Linked DNA regions of Homo sapiens: regions 1 and 2 are each linked to region 3. Evidence: fine-mapped expression QTL. A gene starts in region 3. Each other region holds a variant in brackets. All regions are shown on one strand. Distances are between the middles of the regions.

Region 1 (8,193 bases), 46 kb before region 3:
GTCTCCTAGGTCGTATAAGAAGGCATTGATTATTTATTTTACAATTAGGAATTTAGGCAAAGCCCTTAGATTCAGAGATGCATTGACTTTTGAATTGTGACTTTAAAAATAATAATAATTGATCTTTTTCACAAATGTGTATATCCTAGATGATGCCAAAGATCCCAAATCACTAAGGGCATCCAGTTCATTGGCGGTGCAAGGAGGAAAAATTAAGCGGAAGTTTGTGGATCTGGGGTAAGCACTTCACGATGTAAAAAGAAAGCCCTCTGTAAAAGGAGGATTGAAAGAGAAAATTTCAGCTTCCCCTTTCTGACTGCTTACTATCATTACAGGGCGCCTTTGCGAAGGAATTCCAGCAAGGGAAAGAAGTGGAAAGAAAAAGAAAAAGAAGCCAGTAGGTTTTCTGCAGGTAGCAGGTACGGTTGTGTGATTAAGAACACGTGTATTTCTATACCTAAACTTTCTGGCCCCCTCTTCTATTGTTAACCAAAATCAGTGGTCAGTATCTTTGAGCTAAAGTGATATGCCAAGAATTGAGATGGAAGAAAAATTGCACAATTAGTTTATATTGGTCTTACTCCAATTATAGCCTCCATCTAGCCTTGGGCATATCCATTGGTTCTTAATTGCAGAATTATGGCCACATGAACCATTTCAATAAGTGTTTATCTAAATTCAGCACAAATATATCTATGTGATACTTCAGAAATATCAAATATATTTATGTGATACTTCAGATTTTTTGCCTGGCTACCCACAATGCTAGTGCATTGTATTAAGTCTAAAAGGATAATCATTTTGCATTTAAGTACCTTGTTGACATTCAAGATTGTCTTGTCCACATGTATGTAGGAGTGACCACCATCTTTTGCTGCACTTGGCTATTTAATTGATTTTGTGGGCACTGTCAACTATGCTTAGTCTTCAGTAAAGACCTTCCCATAAAGAGCGAGCTTTGAACAGCATGTTATCAAATTTTCCCAGTTGTTTTCTGAGATTATATAATTTTAAGCTGAGATTTGTATAGGGAGTCAGTAAAGCATCAAGCTCTGAAGCCCAGCTGCCTGGATTTGAATCATGGCTCTCCTACTTATAACTTTTAAATCTTGGGCAAGTGAGTTACCCTCTGTGCCTTCATTTCCTCATGTAAAATGAGAGTAATAACAGTACCTTTTACATAAGGTCAGTGTAAGGATTCAATGAGTTTTCATGTAAAACATTTAAAATGATACTTGGCATGTAGGAGGTATTCAAAGAATAATAAAGATAACAATTTGCTGCTATTGCCATTACTGTTACCTTATTATTATTTGCAAGTTACAAAGTAGTTTTATATTTATCATTTCATTTGATCCTTATAGGATTGAGAGGATGGCAAGGCTTGGTGGCCCACACCTGTAATCCCAGCACTTTGGGAGGCCAAGGCGGGTGGATCACCTGAGGTCAGGAGTTTGAGACCAGCCCGGCCAACATGGCGAAACCCCGTCTCTACCAAAAATACAAAAATTAGCCAGGCGTGGTGGCGCACACCTGTAATCCCAGCTACTCGGGAGGCTGAGGCAGGAGAATTGCTTGAACCCGGGAGGCGGAGGTTTGAGTGAGCCAAGATCGCACCACTGCACTCCTGGGCGATAGAGCGAGACTCCGTCTCAAAAAAAAAAAAAAAAAAAGATTGGGAGAGTAGATAATAATACCATACTTTATTGATGAAGAACTTTACCTTCATAGAATTTAATTGATTTGCCCAGGGTTATGCAGCAGGCAGTTAATGTCAACCTGGGGCTTGCTCCTCCTGTGTAGATGTTTTTCCAACATACTATGCCACCTTCAGTTACTTATGCATCTAATGATGCTTAAATTTCTTTATAAAATTTGGAAATAATCTCAATATCATAGACTAAGGAAGAAACACACTAAAAATAAAATACTATAAAATCATGCAAGGACCACTTCTCCACTTCATGGGTTGTCCACTGCTGTTTACTTTTCTTTTTTCTCTTTTCTGACATATACCTTGGTGAGAAATTGTACCTTCTTCTTGGAATTAAAGGAGCATTAAAGGAGCATAATGGGCGGGAGATGAGGAGAGAGAATTCCCAAATTAATTATCTTTGTTAGTGTGGCTTTCCTTTATACTGTACATTGGAAAAGGGTAGAATGCTCTCAGAATGAGGACAACAATCTCAGGAAAATAAAGGTAAATCTGAGGCTATATGCATCTCGAAAGTAGTTTAACTTTGTGTGGTTCGGGAGTGAGAATGATCCACTTTGTGTGTTAAAATTAAGAATAGAAAAATAAAATCAAACATACTCATGGAAAAAAACAAATAATGAAACCGTTTAGGGGAGAAAGAGATGCATAAATACATGATGGGAGAGAAACTCAGATACTGAAAATGACACTGTCCTTCCTTTGGTCTCTGGGCTTTGAAGACAGTCACTCCCTCTCATCTTTGAGGCACCACCTGAGAGGGATGTGAGCACCTGCAGCCAGAAAGGGGGAGGGTGTTTGATGGAATTTTGCCATAGTAGCCAGAGATGATTCACCTCCTTGTATAAATCACAAATGAAAGTCAAGCCAATCTTGATTGTGTTGGTGAGTGCCTGCCCACCTCACTATAGGCAAAACCACAGCTTGTCAAGGGCAGGTGGCCATCAGCACACTGCTTCACCACAGTCGATGCCTGCTTTGAACCCACAGCTAGACTTCTAGATTGGCTGCCTCGCCACCACTGTATTTTTAAAACTCTGGAGTCCCCCTGATTCAGCAGTCAGAAATTATTGTACACATACCCACACTACAAACTAGTTTCTAATTAGAATCATGATTTTGATCTTTTGTAGTTCCTAAGTGTGATGATTGGGTGTTCACAGGCATGTGTGAGATGGCCTCCCTCAAACCTTGTTATGACATTGGCATACCCAAAAAAAATAAAATCATAGTTTTATAATTATTAGTAATTATAGTAGAATTTTGGCAGGATGGAAAGGAATTCATATAATTGGAATAGAAGAACAAGGAAAGAAGAAGGACACTTTTCTCTTGCAAGAAAAAAAATTTTGAGCTGCTATAGTAATTGGTTAACACTAATAAAATCTGTGGACAGCTATATTCTTCTGTATAGATTGATAATGGGTACAGAACCTTATAAAACCTATCCCAGGAAGAACAGAATTGCTGCCCAGTAGGAGCTTAATGCAATTGAGTTGGATTCTCAGGGTCCTGAAAGTCTGTGGGCTGTAAGCACCATCAGCTGCAGGGTCGCACTATGATTGTAGTGGGCAACTGGGAATACACTCACCAACCCTGGGAGACTTCCTCAGAAAAAGGAGGGAAGGATCCTTGGACTGAGTAATGTTATCTTTTTGAAGCATTTCATCCAATTCTTATTAGGCTAAGATTCTGATAAGATCATTGGTCAGCTATAACCTATGGCTGTTAGATTTTAAAGAGGCAAGACTTTCACTATTTGGTCTTGGTTTTAGTTTTTTCCTCTCTATAAAGAGTTTACCTTGTTGTGTTTCTGTGGATACATAATGACTCAGATACATGCGCGACATGAGACAACTAGAGAAAATGGATGAGGCTAATAATAATAAACAAATAAACCCAACAAAGAAATATGACTTGGTTCCATCCCTTTTCAAATATGTGCTCAGTGGCATTGTCTTTTTGTTTGTTTGTTTGTTTGTTTGAGACAGTGTCTCACTCTGTTGCCCAGGCTGGAGGACT[A/G]TGGCACAATCACAGCTCATTGCAGCCTTGACCTCCTGGGCTCAAGTGATCCTCTCAGCTCAGCCTTCTGAGTACCTGGGACTACAGGTGTGTGCCACCATGTCCAGCTTAAAAAAAAAATTGTAGAGGTGGGGTCTTGCTATGTTGCCCAGGCTGTTGTTGAACTCCTGGGCTCAAGCAGTTCTCCCACCTCAGCTTCCCAAAGTGCTGGGATTATAGGCACAAGCCACTACACCCAGCCAACATTCTGATTTTAAACAGGCAGCATAGCAGATAACAAAAGCAGGAAACATTTAGTTGTCAGAGCTTGTTCACCCCTTAAAATGTATACCAAAGGGTAAAATAAAATCCTATTCTGTATTCTGGAGTAAGTAGCCACTGATGTCAGTGGAGCATCTACTTTGGAGCTCTGTAGATAAGTTTCCAGTGTAGTCACGGAATGGAAAACTCTGTGAGATGTGTGTATCTCAGATGGGGAGATGTGTGTATCTCAGATGGGGCTAGGTGATAGTATGTTGAGAAAATGATAAGGAAAGGAGATGGCAGTCTTCTATGGAAATGAATTTGCATTCAAGTAGAAAGTGTGAACAACAGAAACAACACTGAGCTGGAATCCAAGGTAGTAGTCCTTACTTTTCCATTAGGCAAGTCTCTGAATTCCTGGGACCTTGGTTTCCTACCAAAAAATAAGTGGATTGGGCTGACACTGCATGGCTCTGACTTCCCATTCACCTCTGCGTACACTGTCCAGTATGGTTGCCTCTAGTCAGATAAGGCTAGTCTATATTGGGATATGTGTAGGAGAATAATGAATGCTGGACTCAAAGACTTAGTATGAACAAAAAGAACATAAAATATCTTCATAATATTATAATATTGATTACATGTCAAAATAATATTTTGGGTTTGGAGGGTAAATAAAATGTATTATTGTTAAAATTATTTTACCTCTTTTTTTCCCATGGTGCTACTAGAAAATTTTAGTTTACAATGTGGTTCATTTATATTTCTTTTTGGATAGTGTTGATCTGTAGGATTCCATGAAAAACAAATCTTCCTTTAATTTCTACCCCATTATTCAGTTGGTCTATTCATTTATTGTTTATTTTCTTATTTATATTCTACTCCTCGTTATTCCAAAATAATTTGTTTACATACAAAAGTACATATGCTACAACAATATAATTTATTAAAAAGTAAATTGAATAGGGAAAAGTTAGATTAAAAAGTAAGTAAAATTGTTACTTAAAATACAACATCTTCAATAACATCTTCATAGTAAGTATAAGAGTGACCTTCCAGTGAAAGCCAAAAACACAATGTCAATATGGTTAAAAGCCTGGGTTGAAATCCCAACTCTGCCACTTACTTCTTGGACAGGTTTCTTAACCTTTCTGTACCTCAGTTTTCTCATCTGTAAAATGGAGACATAGACACACACACACACACCCGCCCCTCACATACTTCTTCATGTTATTAGGAGGATTAAGATGGTCACATTGAAGTACATTTCAAATCCTTAAATAAAAATGTCTATTGTTATCATTGTTTATTAAAGCAGGTTTGATGGGAAGGATACAAAATGACATTCTTCTTGCGTATTTTGCTGGCAGTCTTGTTCATCCAAGGATGACTTTTGTTATATCTTGAAGAATGAATGGGCTATATGGATTATACTTCAGGCTGTACTTCATAGGCTATTTCTCTCAAAGAGGCTTTAGATAAATCATGGCATGACAGTGAGTTTGAAATTATATCCTATGACAAGTACCTGGAGGGTCCACTCTGCCCCTGTTGCTGAGTAAGAGCAAAACCCCTGCTTAAGAATCATCTGAGCTGGCTGGAAACACACCTTTTAGAAGAATTGATGGAGATGAGCACATGTGTGTGAGTAGAAAAACACCCCATCTCTGCCTAAGCCTGGCCCAGTGAATGTAGTCATTTTCATGGAGACCTTTGAATAATGTCAGCTTAGCCCTAGTAGATCGGACTTATTCCCCATAACTGTCTAGCCCATTTTTAGCTGCATTTATCAATTTAATATTCAGTTTTCTTTTTAAGTACAGTATTTCAAATGCCTGAAGCCTGACAAACTTACATTCTTAACAGGCAAACACTTTTCCATACTTAAAAAAGCTCTTGAAAATCTAATAAGTTACTGTTTAACTGTAGTGACTCTAAACGTCCCAATATAGTTATCAAAGTGCTTAATATATTGTGTGTTTGTTAAAAACTCAAATTTAAAATGAGTTTAGATCATTAAAATGAGTTTAACATTTTAAGGTAGAATCAGTGGACACATTTCTCTTTCAGATTTCTATTCATACAAATTTTCTTAAACACCTAAGCAATATATCTGTTATTCTTAAACTTAGCATTTAGATTTTGATAGTATGGATTTTATTTACGTGATCCTCTTCTATTTCATTTTAAACCCCTCCAGTATGGGGAAGACTCATTAAGGGAATAGTTTCACCATCTCGAATGATTCAGAGTTGAACACTACAGTGACCATCTCAGATGAACTATTATTGATTAGATCAGAACTCAGGATCTGGGAGCAGGATATGTCTGAGTAGGGGGCGGGGGTTGGCCCTGAGCTTTAGATGGACATGTTTCTCACAGCTGTTATCCATTAGGGTCTCTAGATCCCATTTAGATGAGGCTAGCTTTACAACCTCAAACTCCTTGGTGGATGTTAGAACCTTATAGAATTACTTCATTCGATTTAGGTAAATACAAGTCTGCAATCTTCCTCTGGTTGCAACTAATTTTCTTCAATTAACTTCTTTTACTCCTGGGCTTAAATTCTGTATTTCTTTTATACTTCATCTGTTCTGGCAGTTTCTGAACTCTTAATGATATTTTGATGACATCCAGTTAGATGCTGAATACTTCACACACCTGTATTCAAAGTTAGAATGACAACAACAAAGATCACCTTGGAATGTTTAGCTGGCAATTTAATTTTGGGATGCCAGCCCCAGGATACACTGGATTCAAGATATATGTAAATGAGTTCATTACTTATAAGAGATATTACATAAACCATTTAAATGCCAGGAAACAGCTACCTCTGAAATGGTATCTTTGGATTATGAGGACGAATTTGAAGCCATTCTTTCTCCCAGTTCCTAGGAGTGACTTATGATTCTCTTTTTTCCAAAAATGATAGCAAGCCAGTAAATTATAGCTAAAAAAGAAGGTGAAGGGAATATAGACTATCTACCTATTTTGATCCACTGGAAAAATTATTTTCAGATTCATCAAGAGTTCATTTCTACCAATCTCGATTTTGGGGAGAAAGGAAGGTGAAAAGGAAAGAAAAGGAAGGAACGAGGAGGAGAAGAAGAAAGGGAGGGAGGAAGCAAATAAGAAAGGAAAGAAGGATTTTATGTTATTCCTAATGGATTTCTCCACAAAGTGAAATAGACTATAAGAGTGGTCAACATGGAATAACTGCTGCCAAACCCTTTCTGCTTCTATTGTGGGCCCAAGAGTTCAATTTATTCAGAAGGAAATTGACATTTATTTTAGAAAGCATGTCTGCTAAGCTGATAGGTCTGTAATTTTAAAGCAAAAATTTCGTTTTTTAAATGAATGTTCTCTAGGTCCGAGAAATGAAAGCATACCACTCACTGTTCAGTTCTTTAAGGATACTAGCAAGTACCCAGGGGTTACATCAGTTCATGGGGTTTTAAAATCACAGATACTCACAGAGGAATGAGAGATACAGGATACAACTTCAGCAGGGGCACAGCCAAGCCTCATGGGAAACTGAAAAATATTCTTCAAAATATCCCTGAATCTGGTGATTTGCCACTGTAGAGACGTAGGTGTCTTCTCGGAAGTGGCCTCTCATTGCCTTCTGCCTGGCTCTTCCTCCTTCCTGTCTATTACTTGGTGTGCAAAGCTAGGGAAAGGAAGCCTCTGGGTATCACCAGAGGCCCAGCTTCTGTGATCTCCTTCACCGCACATGTAAGAACCACATGGCCTCAAGACCCTCCTCAGTGCTGGATGCACAGGTCCATGTGGAATTATTAGTCTTGAATATTTTTCTGACAGTGAAAATGTTGTGAGAGAGTTTAATTAGATGTGACCTTCAGATTTTTTTCTTTTCAAATGTTGCTTGGACAGGATTTGGACTACCAAAAGTCCTTTTCAACTAAAGCAATGGAATGACCACAAGTAGAAAACAATTCTTATTTTGTCCCTATTTGCTTTTAAAGGTAATAGTGATTGTTCTAAAAGCATTGTTACAAAGGCTGTTCACTGGGAGTAGGACAAGATTGTCATGCTGTCATTAATCATGGCCTATTTATAAACTTTAAAACAATATCCATATATTTAAGCACTACTATATTTTATTGAAAATTGTGGATGAACTCATTTAAAAATTCCCTTGATTCAGAAATCTATAACCAGAGGAGATAATGATCATCCGGTCCAGTTTTTCC
Region 2 (8,193 bases), 410 kb after region 3:
AAATTAGGATTTGTTTTTAATCTATCATGAACTGAACAAAAGTTTAACCAGTAAATTGTACTTTTAATTTAGAATATTGAAAACACAAATTTAGATTGTCAGATTAGAATCAGTGGTGTTATATGTGTTTGTTGTCAGCCACTCATGAATACAGATAATAATGAGAAGAAAGATATCATGCCTGGTAGGATTTTTCCAGTCTCAGACAGTGACTCAGGGTATTTCCAAGGTCCCTCAGCAGAAGAAAGAAATGAAGTGTTTGGAAGTACTGATATCCTCAGAAGGATGTTGGAGAGTAGAGTATATAGACTACTGAAGAAGGCAGGGTTGGAACTGACCTTGTAAGGGTTGGCACTGCTGCAACTTTGTGACATATGAGGAACACATTGTGTCTTAACTGGGGATGAGCCCACAGCCTGGAAATATTTCTGAGGTTAGAGTGTTGAAGTCCTATGGATCCTTTAAGAGAGAGAGAGGTGGGAAGAAACCTGTGAGCAACCATACTGAGAACTCGTGTTGGATATTGGATTTTCTCAGCCCTCATAATATTTCACATAAATTTCAACTTGGAAGGCTTGAAGTGGTATCATAACAGGAGTACCCCCAAGTAAAGGAGACCATAGCATCAGTTAGGTTGATTCAGTCTGACAATGAGATCATAAATTAAAATTCTTAGCTGTCAAGAAGGATATGTGGGTTAAATTTTCAGATTTATATGAAATGCAGTACTCTTTTATACTAGGTTTGTGCAAAAGTGATTGCAGTTTTTGCCATTAAAAGTTAATGCCAGTAACTTTGCCGTTAAAAGTTTGCCATTAAAATTAATGGCAAAAATCGCAATTACTTTTGCACCGACCTAATAGTATAGACAAACATAAAATGCTCACTAGTGTCCTTACCACTGCTAAATTGAGCATAAATAGGCAGCAATGGATAGCAGCTCTAGAAACTATCATCTTTGCATTTATGATTGGTCAGGCCTGAGAAACAGAAATGTAAATGTTTCATTGCATTACCAGTCTCAAGTCTCTTGTCATTTGGGATGAAAAAGACTTACATCCTGAAGGCTGTACTACCTATCGGCAGCCATGAGTTATGTAACCTAAAACTTTCACAGTCATTCCACATGAGACTGGAAGTCTGGCAAAGAGCCCAGTGGAAAGATTCAAGGTGACAGAAAATAGTGGAGGCTTCAAGTAAGGAAAAAATGAGTCTTTTCTAAAGGCCAGAACCTTGCTCCAGAAATGGCAGAAACTAACACTAACTAATGAGGGTTTCCAGAAGGTTCTGTTATACCTCATAAACGGGTTGTGGAAAGAGCTAATACTTTCTCAGCTACATCACCTCTGGGTACTAAGGATATGTATGACGATTGTACCATTGAACTCTGGCTAAACTAACCAGAAAATGAATGTATTACAATGCTATTATGCAGCTCACAGGTTTGACAGGAAAGTTAAAGACCTTAGCTCAGATAATGGGCAGACTCCAGGGAGTATGGGAAGCAGACAGCATATCCACTGTTGTGCCACAGGAATATCTGTTAGAATCCCACTCCAGTGCCTGGTGCCATATTGACTCCGCCACCATGAACTATCTCTAACTTTCTCTGTGTTTTCAGGTTTCTTCTTCCACATTCAAAATCCCAGTTAAGGAGGAGAACATCTGGTGTCCTTTAAATTTTCATAGTGGGATTAAATTTCTGCTTCTCACAAACACTCATGTGCTGTGGCGTTTTGTTTTTATTTATTTATTATTTAAATTTTTAAATTTTTTTAGAGATGAGGGTCTCATTCTGTTGCCTAGGCTGGAGTGCAGTGGTGCAAACACAGCTCACTGCAGCCTTAAACTCCAGGGCTCAAGTGATCCCCTCACCTCAGCCTCCTGAGTAGCTGGCACCATAGGTACGTGCCACCATGCCGAGCTAATTATTTTCTATTTTTTGAGTTTCTCTTTGTTGCCTAGGCTGGTCTCAAACTCCAGGTTTAAGCAATCCTTCCACTTCAGCCTTCCAAAGTGCTGGGATTACAGGCATGAGCCACTGTGCCCGGTCTTGTTTGGTTTTAACAATATAAATGGGATCTGTTTGCTGGGCAACCAAAGATGACTGTCAAATGTCAATCCTGTCCGTGCCACTGGCTGCCCAATATCTGACATGCATTCTTCCTCCTCTAATTGCATGTCACTGAAAAAACTTATAAAATATTGAAGCTATTTATTATTTGTTTTTTAAAAACAGAATTTGTTTAGATATCTGTCAGAGTTTGGAGTTTTCTTTGTGGGGAAGGTTTTATATTAGTGATTTAGTTTCTTTAATATTTAGTTTGCATTATAGAAATTGTAAATATTTAACCATGTAGGTCTGTTTAGATATCTATTTCTCCTGTCCATTTTGTTAAGTCGTATTTAATAAAAGTATGGTCATATCTTCTATATGTTCATATGTATTGGCATAAAATTGTTTCTAATATGTTGATATAGTCTTATTTACTGTTATATTGCCTTGAAAATCTCCAGTGACGCCACCTTTTCCAGCTCTGATACTCTTATATTTGTGCCTTCTCCCTTTTATTGATTAGTCTTATTAGATGTTATCAATTTTCAACAAACCACCTTTTTTGTTGATTTTAGTTGTCAGAGACTCATTGTCTACTTCACTAATTTCTGCCCTTATTTTTCTTATTTCCTTTCTTGCGCATTGAGGTTGATTTTGCAGGTTTTTGTCATAACTTTTTGAGACTTCTGGTTTAGCTATACCAAGTAAAGAGCGTGGAGGTTGTCACTCCCATTCTTTTTTTTTTTTTTTTTTTTTGAGACGGAGTCTCGCTCTGTCGCCCAGGTCGGACTGCGGACTGCAGTGGCGCAATCTCGGCTCACTGCAAGCTCCGCTTCCCGGGTTCACGCCATTCTCCTGCCTCAGCCTCCCGAGTAGCTGGGACTACAGGCGCCCGCCACCGCGCCCGGCTAATTTTTTGTATTTTTAGTAGAGACGGGGTTTCACCTTGTTAGCCAGGATGGTCTCGATCTCCTGACCTCATGATCCACCCGCCTCGGCCTCCCAAAGTGCTGGGATTACAGGCGTGAGCCACCGCGCCCGGCCCCCCATTCTTAACTCAAGAAAAAAATCGGACACACTGGAAATCATTCACTTTTCCTGGACCCATCTAGAGTGAAGACCATGGGTGGCAAACTGCCACCCCAACATCTGGAGAGACAAGTGTATCTGGGGAGTCACAGCTGAGATCTGCTTAGGTGAAGCAGAGGCCGTTAAAGTCAGAAACACTTAAATGATAATTTTGACTCATTGCTAGAGGCTGAGTGTGGACTAGTGTAATAGTGAAAATCTCTTGGGGGCCAAAGTCTTAGGGGGTGTCCTACACTGTCATTGGTTTTACCTCCAGAACTTCATCAGGTTCTCATAGCAAAGATCCAGGAAAGATTCTCTTCGTTGTGAATTATCCTCACATGCTTCTCCATCACAAGATAGTTCTCTGCAGGGGAGGGAATTTGCCAGAGCCTCATCCCATCTAAGAAAAGGGCATTCTTCCTTCAGCCTTCTTGCCTTACCTAAGGGGGCTGGGCTTCAGGGAAATAAACTAGAACATCATAGCCAGAGAAGGAAGTAAGGAGCAGAGGGAAAAAAGAAGCCTTACCACTAGAGAAGTACTTGTGAAAGTCATAGCTTTGAGACATACATCCACTAAAAGACTGAGATTTAATCATAAGATTATAGAAGGCTTCCCCTCCCTACACGTTACCACCCTACCAACAGGGCTGAGGTAGAATAACAGCAGACGGCAATTGTTAGGAGCTACAAGACACAGACTTTCTGAGGAAGAGTACTTTGGGAAGCCCAAAGTGCAAAGGGAATACAAAAACAAGGAAACTAAAGGAACTCAAAGGCTCTGGCACCTATAGTTACAGCAAGCATTAAACATAGCTCAGCTCCTAGCCAGATGAACACAAATCCCAAATCCACACACTGAAGGTCAGTTTACTCCAGATCCTATAACCCAATACAACATGTCTAGCTTTCCAAAGAAAATTATAAGGCATGACAAAAGGCAAGAAAAAATCACAGTGGCAGTGACAGGCATTCATTAGAACCAGACTCAGCTATGACACAGATGTTAGAATTATCAGACTTGGGGTGGGGTGGGAACAAGGAATTAGTCAAAGGACACAAAATTTTAGTTAGATAGGAGGAATAAATTCAAGAGCTTTATTGTACAACATAGTGACTATAGTTAATAATATATTGCATTCTTGAAAAATGCTGAGAGTGGATGTAAAGTGTTCTCACCACAAAAATAATAACTATGTAACATAATGCATATATGTTAATTAGCTAGATTTAGTCATTTCACAATGTATATATAATTTAAAACATCATGTTGTATGTGGTAGATACATTCAACT[TTGTC/T]TGTCAATTTTAAAGCTTTTTTTAAAAGGAATTATCAGGGAATTGAAAATTACAATTAATTTATGTTCAAGAACTTAATATATTCAGGACACTAATTTAAAAAAGTAGACAATATGTAAGAGGCTTAGTTATCACCCATTATACTTACTTCATTAAGAAGGTAAAAGTTTACTTACTTTTCTATGTTTAGTAGTAGTTTAGGTGGTATTGGGACTATCTAATCTTTAACATTTTGTGAAATTTTCTAGAGGAATCATCTGGGGTGGATGCTTTCTTTGTGAGGGCACTTTGAAAATGTCTCTGTTTCTTCTAAGGCATATGGGCTGTTTATATTTTTATTGCTACAAAGGTCACATAAAAATTATATTTTCCTAAAAAGTTATCCACATATATCTGGAAATATATATAGAAAGAGAGTTTTAATTTTCCTTTTGGCAACTTTAAAAGATATAGAAAAGTACAAAGAATAATATGACAAACACATATGTTCTCACCACCATAATTAGCAACTGCTAACAATTTTATATTTTCATTTTACACTTTAAAAATGTACACAGAGCATTGCACAGACCATAAGGGCAGAACTCAATAAATCATCTCAGCGTAAACACTCTTGTATAACCACCACCCAGATCAATAATTACAACATTATAAGTTTTGGATTCAGTGGATTTGGAAGAGGAGGGAGCAGACAGAGAGCACCAAATGGGAGGGAATCGAATCTGGAAGGTCCCAAGTCTAGTGACATGGTGACATTGAAAAAAATTCTGTAAAGAAAGTTTCCCTCTCCACCACAAAAATGGCACCTCAGCTGTACTGGAATGGAGAGTGCTAGACTCTGAGGAGAACCCAGCAGCTCTCCTTGCCCCTGCCTAAAGGCTGACCAGACTGCATCAGTGAGGAAGTTACTTGTGATTTCATCTTATATACACAGGAGAGAAAGTGACAAAGGAAAAATTCTGATGGCAACTATATGATAGAAGCTATATAAAGGCAAGTGTCTGTATATTCTTTCAACTATATTTGAGCATACCCAGATGGTGGGTTAGACACTTTTAGTGTGCCTCAGACATGTGGAAATAGCAAGATAGTGCATAAAGCTCAACATTTGAGCTTTTTATTTTTTGTGGGTACATAGTAGGTGTATATATATTGGGGGTACATGAGATATTTTGATACCGGCATAAAATGCAGAATAATCACATCAGGGTCAATGGGGTATCCATCACCTCAAGCACTTATACTTTTTTGTGCTATAAAGAATCCAGTTATACTCTTTTAGTTATTTTTAAATGTACGATAAATTACTGTTGACTGCAGTCACCCTGTTGTGCTATCAAATACTAGATCTTATTCATTCCAACGATATTCTTTTGCCTATTAACCATCCCCACTTACCCCAACCCCACCTTTCTCAGCCTCTAGTAACCATCATTCTACTCTCTATCTCCATCAATTCAATTGTTTGAATTTTGAGCTTCCACAAATAAATGAGGGCATGTGAAGTTTGCCTTTCTTTGCTTGGCTTATTTAACATAACATAATGTCTTCCATCCATGTTGCAAATAACAAAATCTCATTCCCTTTAATAGCTAAACAGTACTCCATTGTGTATATGTACCACATTTTCTTTTTCCATTACTCTGTTTGGCTTTTTGTTTGTTTTTCAGACAGGATCTCACTCTGTCCCCTAGGCATGTTCATGGCTCACAGGAGCTTCAAACTTCCAGGCTCAAGCAATCCTCCTACATCAGCCTGCTGAGAAGCTAAAACCACAGACTCATGCCACCATGCCTGGCTAATTTTTTTAATTTTTAATTTTATTTTTAGAGATGGGGTCTCACTATGTTGCCCAGGCTAACTCCAAATACCTGGGCTCAAGCAATCTGCTCCCCTTGGCTTCCCAAAGTGCTGGGATTACAGAAGTGAGCCACTGTGCCTGGCCCATTTGTCTGTTGATGGACACTTAGGTTGTCTCCAAATCTTGGCTATTGTGAATAGTGCTGGAATTAACATGGGAGTGCAGATATTTTTTAGATAGACAGATTTCCTTTCTTTTGGGTATATACCTAGGAGTGGGATTGCTGGATTGTATGGCAGCTCTGGGTCTCACCCAAAGCCTACTGTCATCACTGCCTGGCTACCACTTATGTTCACTCAAGGCCCAAGGGCTCTGCAGTCATCAGTGGCAAATCCAACCAAGCTTGTGTTCTTCCCCCTTCAGTGCAGTGAGTTGCTCTAGCCCCACTCAGGTTCAGAGATGCTGGTCTGGGAGCCAGGGCCTGGAGGGGGAAACCTTAAGAATCTAACTGGTGCTCTATTCTACTGTGGCTGAGCTAGCACCCAAGCTGCAAGACAAAGTATTTTTCCCTCTTTCCTCCCTTTTCCTCAAGCAGAGGAGTCTCTCCCCATGGCTACCACCACCCCAGGCTCACAGCAAGTACTGCCTGGCTACTGCTGATGTTCATTCAAGCCCCAAGGGCTCTTCAGTCTGCTTGTGGTGAATGCTGCCAGACCTAGGTCTCTCCCTTCAGGGCAGTGGGCTCTGCTCTGGCCTAGGGCAAGTCCAGAAATGCCATCCAGGAGCCTAGGCCTAGAATTGAGAACCCCAGGAGCCAGAGGATTTGGGGTGCCCTACTCCACTGTGGCTGAATTTGTACCCCAGCTACAAGCAAAGTCCTCTTTACTTTCCCCTCTCCTCTATTCAAGCAGAGGGAAGGAGTCTCTCCCAGAGTTGTGAGCTAAGCTGCCCAGGGTTGGGAAAGGGGTGACAACAGTACTCCCTTGGCCACTCCAGCTGATATCTCACTAGGTTGTGTGCACCCAAATCCTCTGGCTTTGAGCCCAGCCCAACACAGCACCAACCAGGACTTAGCCAGGAATTGGAGTCCTCGTTGCCTAGACTGCCTTTGAAGTTTATTTAGGACCTCAGAGCACTTTAGCCCATGGTGGAAGGGCTTGCTGGAACTCGGGTTCTGACCACTAAAACAGGTGACTTGCCTCTGGGGTAAGGCAGATCTGAATGCTCCCTCGTGGGTGCTGGCTGAATTCTGCCCCATGTTGCTTTCCTCCGTGACAGAGAAATTTGAGTTGCAATGCAAAGTCCCACAGTCACTGGGTTCTCCTTCCCCCAAGGGCACAAATTTTCTCTCCATACTATATAGCTGCTACCAGGTGATTAGGGAGGGGTGGATAGGCATTTCAAGAGTGTCTTTCCTACCCTCTCAGTGCATCTTTCCTTAATATGATGTTAAAACCAGGCACTGTGATTGCTCACCTGGTGTTTTGATTCTTATGAAGGTGCTTTTTTGTGTGCATAGCTGTTCAATTTGGTGTTCTTGTGGGAGGGATGATTGCTGGATGATTTGGTCATCTTGCTCCATCTACTCATTCCAAATCTCTCTGTGAGCTTTAATTCAAGAAGGAATATGGGAATCCACCAGAATCATTAAGGACATCCCAGATCCCAGGGAGGAGTATGTGGGCAGTTAGCCCTGTGGTGGCATCTAGGTGATAAAAGTGAGTGAAGCCTCAGTATGTGAGAGAGGCAGAGAGCCTCCCTCTGTGACTCACCATTCTATTGGAGATCCAAGCAACCCAGGCCTAGGGATAGCACTTTGCTTCTCCCAAGCCCTTGAGGTAATTTGGGGAGAGTCTTGGAGATGCTGTGAGGGAAAGACACCGGGAAAAGCTGCAGGCATTTTCCCAGAACTGGGACCAAGAACATCATGCCAGTTTTAATCTGGGTGCATATAAAGTCAGTCATTCTT
Region 3 (8,175 bases):
AGGCTTGGACTGTGAGGAGACTGTGGTTTCCTGATTGATAGATGTGAACTTAGAAAGCAGGCTTCAAAGGAAAGTTGGAATCTGTCCCATAACCTAAGAAAGGGAAAGGTATTTTCAAAATGAAAATCTGACATTATAATTGCAAATATTGACAATAAGGAAATAAAAGGGGAAGTGATAAAGCAGTGGCTTACAAACTTTTCAGACAGAGACTCACAGTAGGAAAAGTATTTTATATGGTGCGAACACCCAGCACATGCACACACATACACATACACATCTGAATCAAGCTTCACAAAACAATACTCATCCTAATCTGTGTCATACATTCATAACTTTTCTGTTCAATTCTGTTTTATTTATTTTTAAATGTTGGTAATTATTTACTAAATTGACTTTGTTACCCACCATTTGAAAAAACTCTGGTCTAGGGAAAGTGTAGTGAATATTTGTAGCATGCCCTCAAGGAACCAAAGGGCAGGTACAAGATGTTAAGGGTGATGGTCATAACCGAGGACAACACAAAGACTGGCATGGAAGGAGAGATTCAAGGACATAAAATCACTGAATGGGCCAAGACTTGTGAAAAACACCAAGGATAGTCAAATTCACTTTTCTTAGACTCAAAACCAATGGGAAGAATACTCATGCTGCCTGACTCACAAGGGTCACTAAACATATGGGTTCACAAAAGATGGAGAAAGGCAGAACTGGTCAGCTCCTATTCTAATTCAGGCTTCTCTCTCATAGAAGATGATCTCTAGCCTGGAAAACATAGAATAATCACAGTTAAAGGGAGCCCAGGGTGGGCAAGGGGGCATTAAGTCAGCACTTGTTGATTTGGGTTCCAATTTGTGGCCCAAACATGTCATATCTCAACAGGATAATCATTACTACTATAGTTCAGGTACCGTATATGCCCGCGTTTAATCCTCAAACACCTCCGTGAGGTGTTATTTTCCCTAAGTTATAGTTGACCAAGATTAAGTGGCTTTCTAAGGCCACAGAGTTATAAAGTGGCTGAGCAGGGATTGGAATTCAAGTATGAACACAAAGCTCACATTTAGCTCTCTGACCAGGCAAAATCTACAGAGAACACTGCTTAAAAGCTGGAAGATGCACCTGAAAATTGACCCACCTGTGTTATTATCATCCAACTCATATTTTTTCTACCTCATTTTCAATTTATTAGGAAATATCTTGTCAAAGGCTTAAGTCCAAATGTTCTGGGCCTAAGAGATAAGGGTCAATGTCTGAGATATATCTCTGATTCACTAGACTCTGAACTCTGCGCAGAAACCATACAGCCTTTGCTGTGAACTTGTCTGAGTCTGCTTTGTGTCACTCTAAAGGAACATCTGAGGCTAAGCAACTGATAAAGAAAAAAGGTTTATTTGGCTTATGATTCTGGATGGTTAGAAAGTTCAGGATTGGGTATCTGCATCTGGTGAGGGGCTCTGGCTGCTTCCACTCATTGCAGAAGATGAAGAGAAGCCAGTACTCACAGAGATCATGGGATGAGAGAGAATGTAAGAGAGGGGAGAGGTACCAGGCTCTTTTCAATCAACCAGCTCTCTCGAAATGAATAGAGTGAGAATTCACTCACTCCCAAGGAGGTCATTAATCTATTCATGAGGGATCCATCTTCATGACCCAAACACCTCCCATTGGGCCCCACCTCCAACATTAGAGATCAAATACGAGGTTTGGAGAGGACGAACATCCAAACCAAGGCAGAAGTATTCGGTGAAAATACATGCTGGCTGCTCGCAGAAAAAAGCAGAGATCTTTGCCTAGGCATTAAGAAATCCGTATCGATTCTCAAACTCTTCTTGGGGCCAAATTCACTCTAATCAGTCTATTTTCTGCTACTACACACGCCTCATTCATTCAAATTGCTTTTCATGGCCTACTATGTGCCAAGCTCCAATAAGGGCTCTCACACATACTTCCTCATTTAATCTTTTTAGCCACCTTTGAGAAAAAGATGAATATTTACCCTGTTTTGTAGGTAAGGAAATGGAGGCACTGAGAGGCTGAGTAAATTGCATGTGGTTGCTTATTTAAGAGGGTAGAGTTGGGATTTGAAATCAAGTGTCATGATACTAAGGACTCTTCCCTGTATTTCTTTCATACCTCTTTTTATTTGCTCACACTTTTCCCTTCACCTAGAATGCTCTTTAGCCCATTACCCACTGGAAAGACCCCTACTCATGATGCTTTGTAGCTTCTCCAGTCTTCTGCATTGGGATTAATAACTCCTTAGTTTACCCTCAGGAACCTTCACATATACATCTGTCAACTTTCTTACCATAGTTGTCATAGTTGTCAGTTTCACAGCTGTCAGTTTTTGTTCTTTTGCTCCCAGTAGACTTTAAAATTGGTGAGTGAATACTGCAACCTATTCATTCCTATAACCTCCAGCAGAAACACAACGTTTGCAAAGAGAAGGTACTCTGCAGATGTCCACTGAAGTGTTTTGTGGAGATACTAGGCAAGTACATCAGACTGAGAAGATGGTGTTGGTTGCATTCATAGGGGAGACTGGAGGGTTGGAGGATTATTTGTCCTTATCTCAGACTTTCAATGAAGTATGATTATAATACATATTCAAGTATCACTCTATATTTTTGAGATCACATATGACAGCTATAAAAGCTAACGTTTACAGGACATCTGCTATATGCCTGATTTTTATATATATATATATACTTAGTTTTATTTATATGTTTTATATAAATATAAATATATGTATGTGTGTGTGTGTGTGTGTGTATATATATATATATATGCTGTAATATGTATTATTATCCCCTAATTTTCGGGTGGAGAAACTGGCTGGAACTTTTCTGGAATAAAGTGGTAAAATAACTTGAAAGTTGCAGAAATGATATCTAACCCAGGTCATCAGGAATCCACAACTACTCTCTTCCCACAACTGTGTGTTGCCTACAGTAAGCATGGAATGGCAGAAATGCATCGAGAGGCCCAACGTTAGCTTTGTGGTTTCCTTCTGAGAAGGGAAACTCAGTGGACTCACGTATTGCAATTAGCAATGTAGGGACAAGGAAGTTGCCATACAGATGCTGCAACATTCCATAGCCCAAGTTGGGGTAGGGGAGGGGAGCTGTTTCTACCATCATCCAAGGCATTCCCTGGACTTGTGCGGCACATACAGCCGACTACAAAGGTGGGAGACTCGTGGGTGGGAGACTCGTGGTCTAGGGGAACTCTCTCAGTTCTTTTCTCTGTACTGCTCCCACCTGGGAAACTCAGAAATCTCTTGAGGCATCCCTTGTGTGCTTCCTTAAGTTCCCTCCAGCCCAGGCATATATAGCTTCCTGTGAGCCGCACACACATACACTCCAAGTCTGAAGAAAAAAGGATGCATCTATCCTGGGGATTTGGCTTGCTCCTGATGCAGGCCTCATGATATCATCTCTTGCCTTCTCTCCCTGGGGCAGATTCATGATCTCTAATCCCCCAGGGAGTTTGTTCCATGACGCTGGTTCTGATTCAATAGTGTGGGGTAGGGCTTGAGATTCTGCCTGTACAGGGAGCCCCTAGGTGATGCTCAGGCATCTGGTCCCCAGACCCAGTTGAGTAGCTAGGTTTTAGGGGTTTCCAACAGTGGGTAAAATTTCCCTTCCTTCCTCTGTCTGGGTCACTCCAGGAGGCTCAGCAACCCATCCTTTATCTATATATTTTTATCTATACCTATAATCTCCTTTGGCAGCCACCAGCACTGTGATTAATAAAAACTCACAAACTGTAATTTTTACATGATTTAAAAGCCAAGAATACCAACTGCTTCTTACTTTTTTTCTGCACTCTGTAACTTAAAAAAATTAGAAAAACATCCACAATAAATAGTAAAAACCCATTCTGAATGTAAGCTTCTAATTAGTCCATAAGCTCATATAATTTTTTTATATTTAATTTTTATTAGGTTTTACTTTAAAGTAAATAAGGCATTGTTGACTAAGCCTTAGAGACTAGGATGATCTGTAGACTTTGAACTCCTGTTAAAAGTTATGAAACTTTTGATACATTCTTAAAATATCCCCACCCCCCTTGTATAGCACTTAACCCTTTATTAAATACTTTAAAGGGAAGCAGGGAACTAACATTTATTGAATAGCTACTCTGTCGCAGGCAGTGTGTATTACTATTTCCAGTTTACTGAAGCAGCTAAGGTTAGAGATGTAAAGTGATTTGCCCAAATCGCATACTCATGGGGCAGAGCTAAACCCCAGGACATCAGATGCTGGCTCCAGGGTTCCCTCTTCCCCGCCTGCCCCCACTGAAGCGAACCATCACAGCACACGTTAGCTCCACCTGCTCGGGTCCACACGCAGTTTTGCTGTGGCCCTCAGTAGCCTCAATTTGAGAATCTTCAAGCCTGGAAGGTTTGCCATGGCCAGGCAGTCAAGGCGCAGAAGCGACAGGGGCTCCTTTCTCTAATACACAAAATATCAGGAGAACCCCCAGCCAGGTTAGTTTGTTTCTTTCCAGGTTGAGAAGTGAATCTGTAGCCAGGGCACACAAATCTTCATGAAAAATTAATTCGTGTATGCTGACAACCTGGGCACTCACACCCCTGGCAATTGCCTCCTTATCCCATGTCTCAGGCCATGAGCAAGAGTTTGTTTTCAAGTGACACATGACGGCTGGACAAACATTTATGAAACCCCCGCAGAGTGTGCATCTAGCACCTGCTTGTAAATGTTCTGTTAACAGCCTGGACCCAACTTTCTGGGGGCTCGTGGAGCTGGCAGGGAGTGAGGAGGACGAAGGCTGCAGCCCTCACCACAACCCAACTTACTGGTAAGAAGACTGGTGGTTCCTGAAGAGTGCCAGTCCCATCCCCAAGAGGGTGAGCGCAATCAGCTTCGCCATGGTCGGGGATAGACAAAGGGATCGATGGGCGCAGACACCGACGGGCTAGGAGGCTCTGCCTGCCTGCAGCCGCAGCCCTGCTGGGGCAGCGCCGATTGGCCCGCCCCGCCCCTCCCCGCCGGGTCGGCAGCTAGCTGGGCCGACCAGGTGCACAGAAGGCGTGGCTTGCGGTCAGCCCCCACCGCAGGAGCTCAGCACTTTCAGCCAAAAGTCCCATTTTGCTCCTTCCAACTGTAAAGAGAGAAGACAGAGAATAGGTGCCTAGTCCAGTCGGGGAGGGGAAATCAAACAAGCTGAAGTAAATTGCCATGGGAAAGGACAGTCAAGCTTTGGTGAGCACTCACTTTGTGCCATCCCGGTCCTTGCGTCTCAGAGAGATTCAGTAGCTTGATCATGGTGACAGCCAAAAAGGTGCGGAAGGGAGGGCTGTAGTAGGAACCCCTAAGATCTAACTGTTCTCACCAGGCTACTACTCTGTGTCACCTTCCAACATCTGGATTTCAAGCATTTTTCTCTCAACACCACTCTGACTTTAGAGTTCACTCAAGTACATCCCCCACACAGCTCATTCATTTCCTCATGCAGCTGGCATTTATTGAGTACCTACTATGTGCCAGGCGCTGTTCTAGATGCTACAGAACAGGACAAAACGTCTTCCTCAAGCTTACGTTCATTCCAATGGGGGGAGTCAATTGAGAAATCAGCAAAACATGTCACTGTGGCATATATAATGCTCTAGGTGATGCATGTGTGTGTTATGGATATGCACATATGTTATGGAGAAAACACATAAAGCAAGAAAGGGGATAAGGAATACCCTCTGCTGAAGAATAGCAGTCAGAGAAGTTCTCACTGATAATGGGGCATTTGAGTAAAGACCCAAAGGAGGTGCCTCTGTACAACCATGTCTCTCTTCTCTGCTGTCTGCTGTTACTGTGAATGATTTGCTCCATGTCTCTTTCCTTCTCAAGGCTTTTGGTCCCAGTTATACCTTCTCTCTTCTGCAATATCTGTCCTTTCATCTCTTGTGGAATATTGCCAGCCAATACCAACATGCTTTACTTATCACCTTTAGCTTTCTGGGGGGAAGCTTCTTTGGCCTCACATTGTAACTACTGCCCTCTCTCTCTGCTCCTTCTGAACACTTGCTCTTAAGCCTTGAGCTACTATGTAAAAAACCTGACCACTCCACTGGAGCATTCACATGAAAGGCCATGAACATATGGAGAGGGAAAGTGGTCAGCTGAAGCCAACCTCTTAACCATCGGCACCAAGGAAGCAGAAATGAATGAAGTGGGCTATTAGACAAGCCCAGCCACCACAGCCTGGCCACCAACTGAATACCACTGGCTAAGCCACCCTGGTTAACACCAGGTGGAGCAGAAGAATCTACCTAAGAAGTAGAACCAATGAATCCAAAAGAGAAGAGTATTCGAAAAGAGGGGGAATGATGATCTGTGTCCAATGTGGCTATGAGTTGAGTATGCTTATGGCAGAGAAGTAACTACTGAATTAGATAACATGGATACAATAGGTGGTTTAATAAGAACAAATTCTACACGAGTCAAAAGAACACAAACCATATTAGAATGGGTTAAGGTGAGAATGGAAGATTGGAGATATTTCACAAGGTTAGCTGCTAAACCAAACAATCATTTTCTTATGCTCATAAACAGTGCATAAGGAATTTGGGCAGGGCCCAGCAGGCTACCTGGTTGACATGCCCACTGGGGTGTTTAACAGTCTTTTCAAAATGTGTCCAAAGGAAAACTCTTAATCCCCCCTGCCCAAACTCACACTTCAATAAATGGCATCACTACCATCCAGTTGCTCAAGTCCAAAATCTACATATCTTCTTTCATCCATCTCTTTTCCTCACACCCTCTTGCACCAAACAGATCAGTCAGTCCTATAGGCTCTATTTTGTATTAGTTATCGTATGCTGCATAACAAATTATACTAAAGTCTCACCATTAAAAACAACAAACATTTATTATCTCATCATTTCTGTGGGTCAGGAATTCAGGCATGGCACAGCTAGATACCTCTGGCTCAAGGTCTCTCATGAGTTAGCAGCTGAGCTGTCAGTGTGAATTGCCATCTTATCTGAAGGCTCAACTGGAGTGGGTGAAGGAGGTGAGATCAGCCTCCAAGATTACTCACACAGCTCTTTAGAGACTTCAGTCCCTTGATACTTCAGTCCCTTGATACGTGGGCCTCTCTACAGAACTACAACAGAACAAGGTAGCTGACTTTCACTAGAATGAGCAATCTGAAAGAGTGAGATAGCATGCCTCCAAAATGGATGCCACAATCTTTTATTAACCTAACTTCTGAAATGACATCCCCTAACTTCTGTCATATTCTGTTTGTTAGATGCAAACTGCTAACTCCAGTTTACATTCAAGGTGAGAAGAATTAAACTTCACCTTTTGAGGCTCCCCTTCATATGCCTTGAGGCATATTGATATGGTTTGGATGTTTGTCCCCTCCAAATCTCATGCTGAAATGTGATCCCCAATGGTGGAGGTGGGACAGGGTAGGAGGTGTTGGGTCATGGTGGCAGATCCCTCTGAATTGTCTTGGTGCCATCCTCATGGTAATGAGTGAGTTCTCTTGCTCTGAGTTCACGTGAGATTTGGTTGTTTAAAAGACTATAGCACCTCCCCCCACCCCCACTCCCTCTCTTGCCATGTGACATGCTAGTGATGCCCATCACCTTCCCCCATGATTTTAAGCTTCCTGAGGTCCTCACCAGAACCTGAGCAGATGTTGACACCATGCTTCCTGTACAGCCTACAGAACCATGAACCAATTAAAACTTTTTTTATATAAATTACCCAGCCTCAGGTGTTTATAGCAGTGCAAAAATGCCTAGCCCACATATCAAAGAATGTATAGATAGCTCTTTGAAACCACTACAACTTTCAAATAATCTTGAATCAACCCAATTTTCCCCATTTCCACTGCCATTACTCTGGTTCAGGCTGCTATCATCTCCAGGCTAGAACAGATTCTCCATTGTTCTCTCCCTAATCACCCTCCCCACAAATCCATTCTTCTTACCAAGGCCCACGTAATCCTTTAAAAATGTAAATCAGATTATATCATTTCCATGCTTAAAATCCTCCCTCTTGTGGCTTCTCATTTTATTTTCTTATTGTGGCCTGAAAGGCCCCACAAGATCTGGGCTGTGCTTATCATCTGACCTAATTTCTTATAATTCACTCAGCATAACGTTGCAGCAACATTAGCTTTTGTACCATTCGGTACACA

Which allele goes with the higher level. Positions count from the first base shown, and alleles are read on the strand shown. Sizes are in standard deviations (SD) of each study's normalised expression. Not every link is listed here.
In carriers of allele TTGTC in region 2, the expression in anterior cingulate cortex of the gene that starts at base 4,956 in region 3 tends to be lower than with T alone (moderate effect, 0.73 SD a copy in GTEx).

What was found.
Region 1: its variant is fine-mapped to the expression of PON1 in testis (GTEx, PIP above 0.99).
Region 2: its variant is fine-mapped to the expression of PON1 in anterior cingulate cortex (GTEx, PIP 0.95).

The regions. Positions count from the first base shown.
Region 1 is chr7:95,273,750-95,281,942 of GRCh38, forward strand. PPP1R9A (protein phosphatase 1 regulatory subunit 9A) reads left to right here. Exons shown (of 20, transcript NM_001166160.2): 15 at 150-237; 16 at 336-419. LOC124901848 (small nucleolar RNA U13) reads left to right here and starts at 2,837; the gene lies at 2,837-2,935. The variant A/G (reference allele first, on the strand shown) is at 3,737.
Region 2 is chr7:95,729,565-95,737,757 of GRCh38, forward strand. No RefSeq gene overlaps it. Among named protein-coding and RNA genes, the nearest start is that of DYNC1I1, 39 kb to the right of the region's middle. The variant TTGTC/T (reference allele first, on the strand shown) is at 4,420.
Region 3 is chr7:95,319,577-95,327,751 of GRCh38, forward strand. It overlaps PON1 (paraoxonase 1), which reads right to left and starts at 4,956. Exons shown (of 9, transcript NM_000446.7): 1 at 4,826-4,956. The coding sequence starts at 4,899. RefSeq lists a silencer at 4,900-5,079.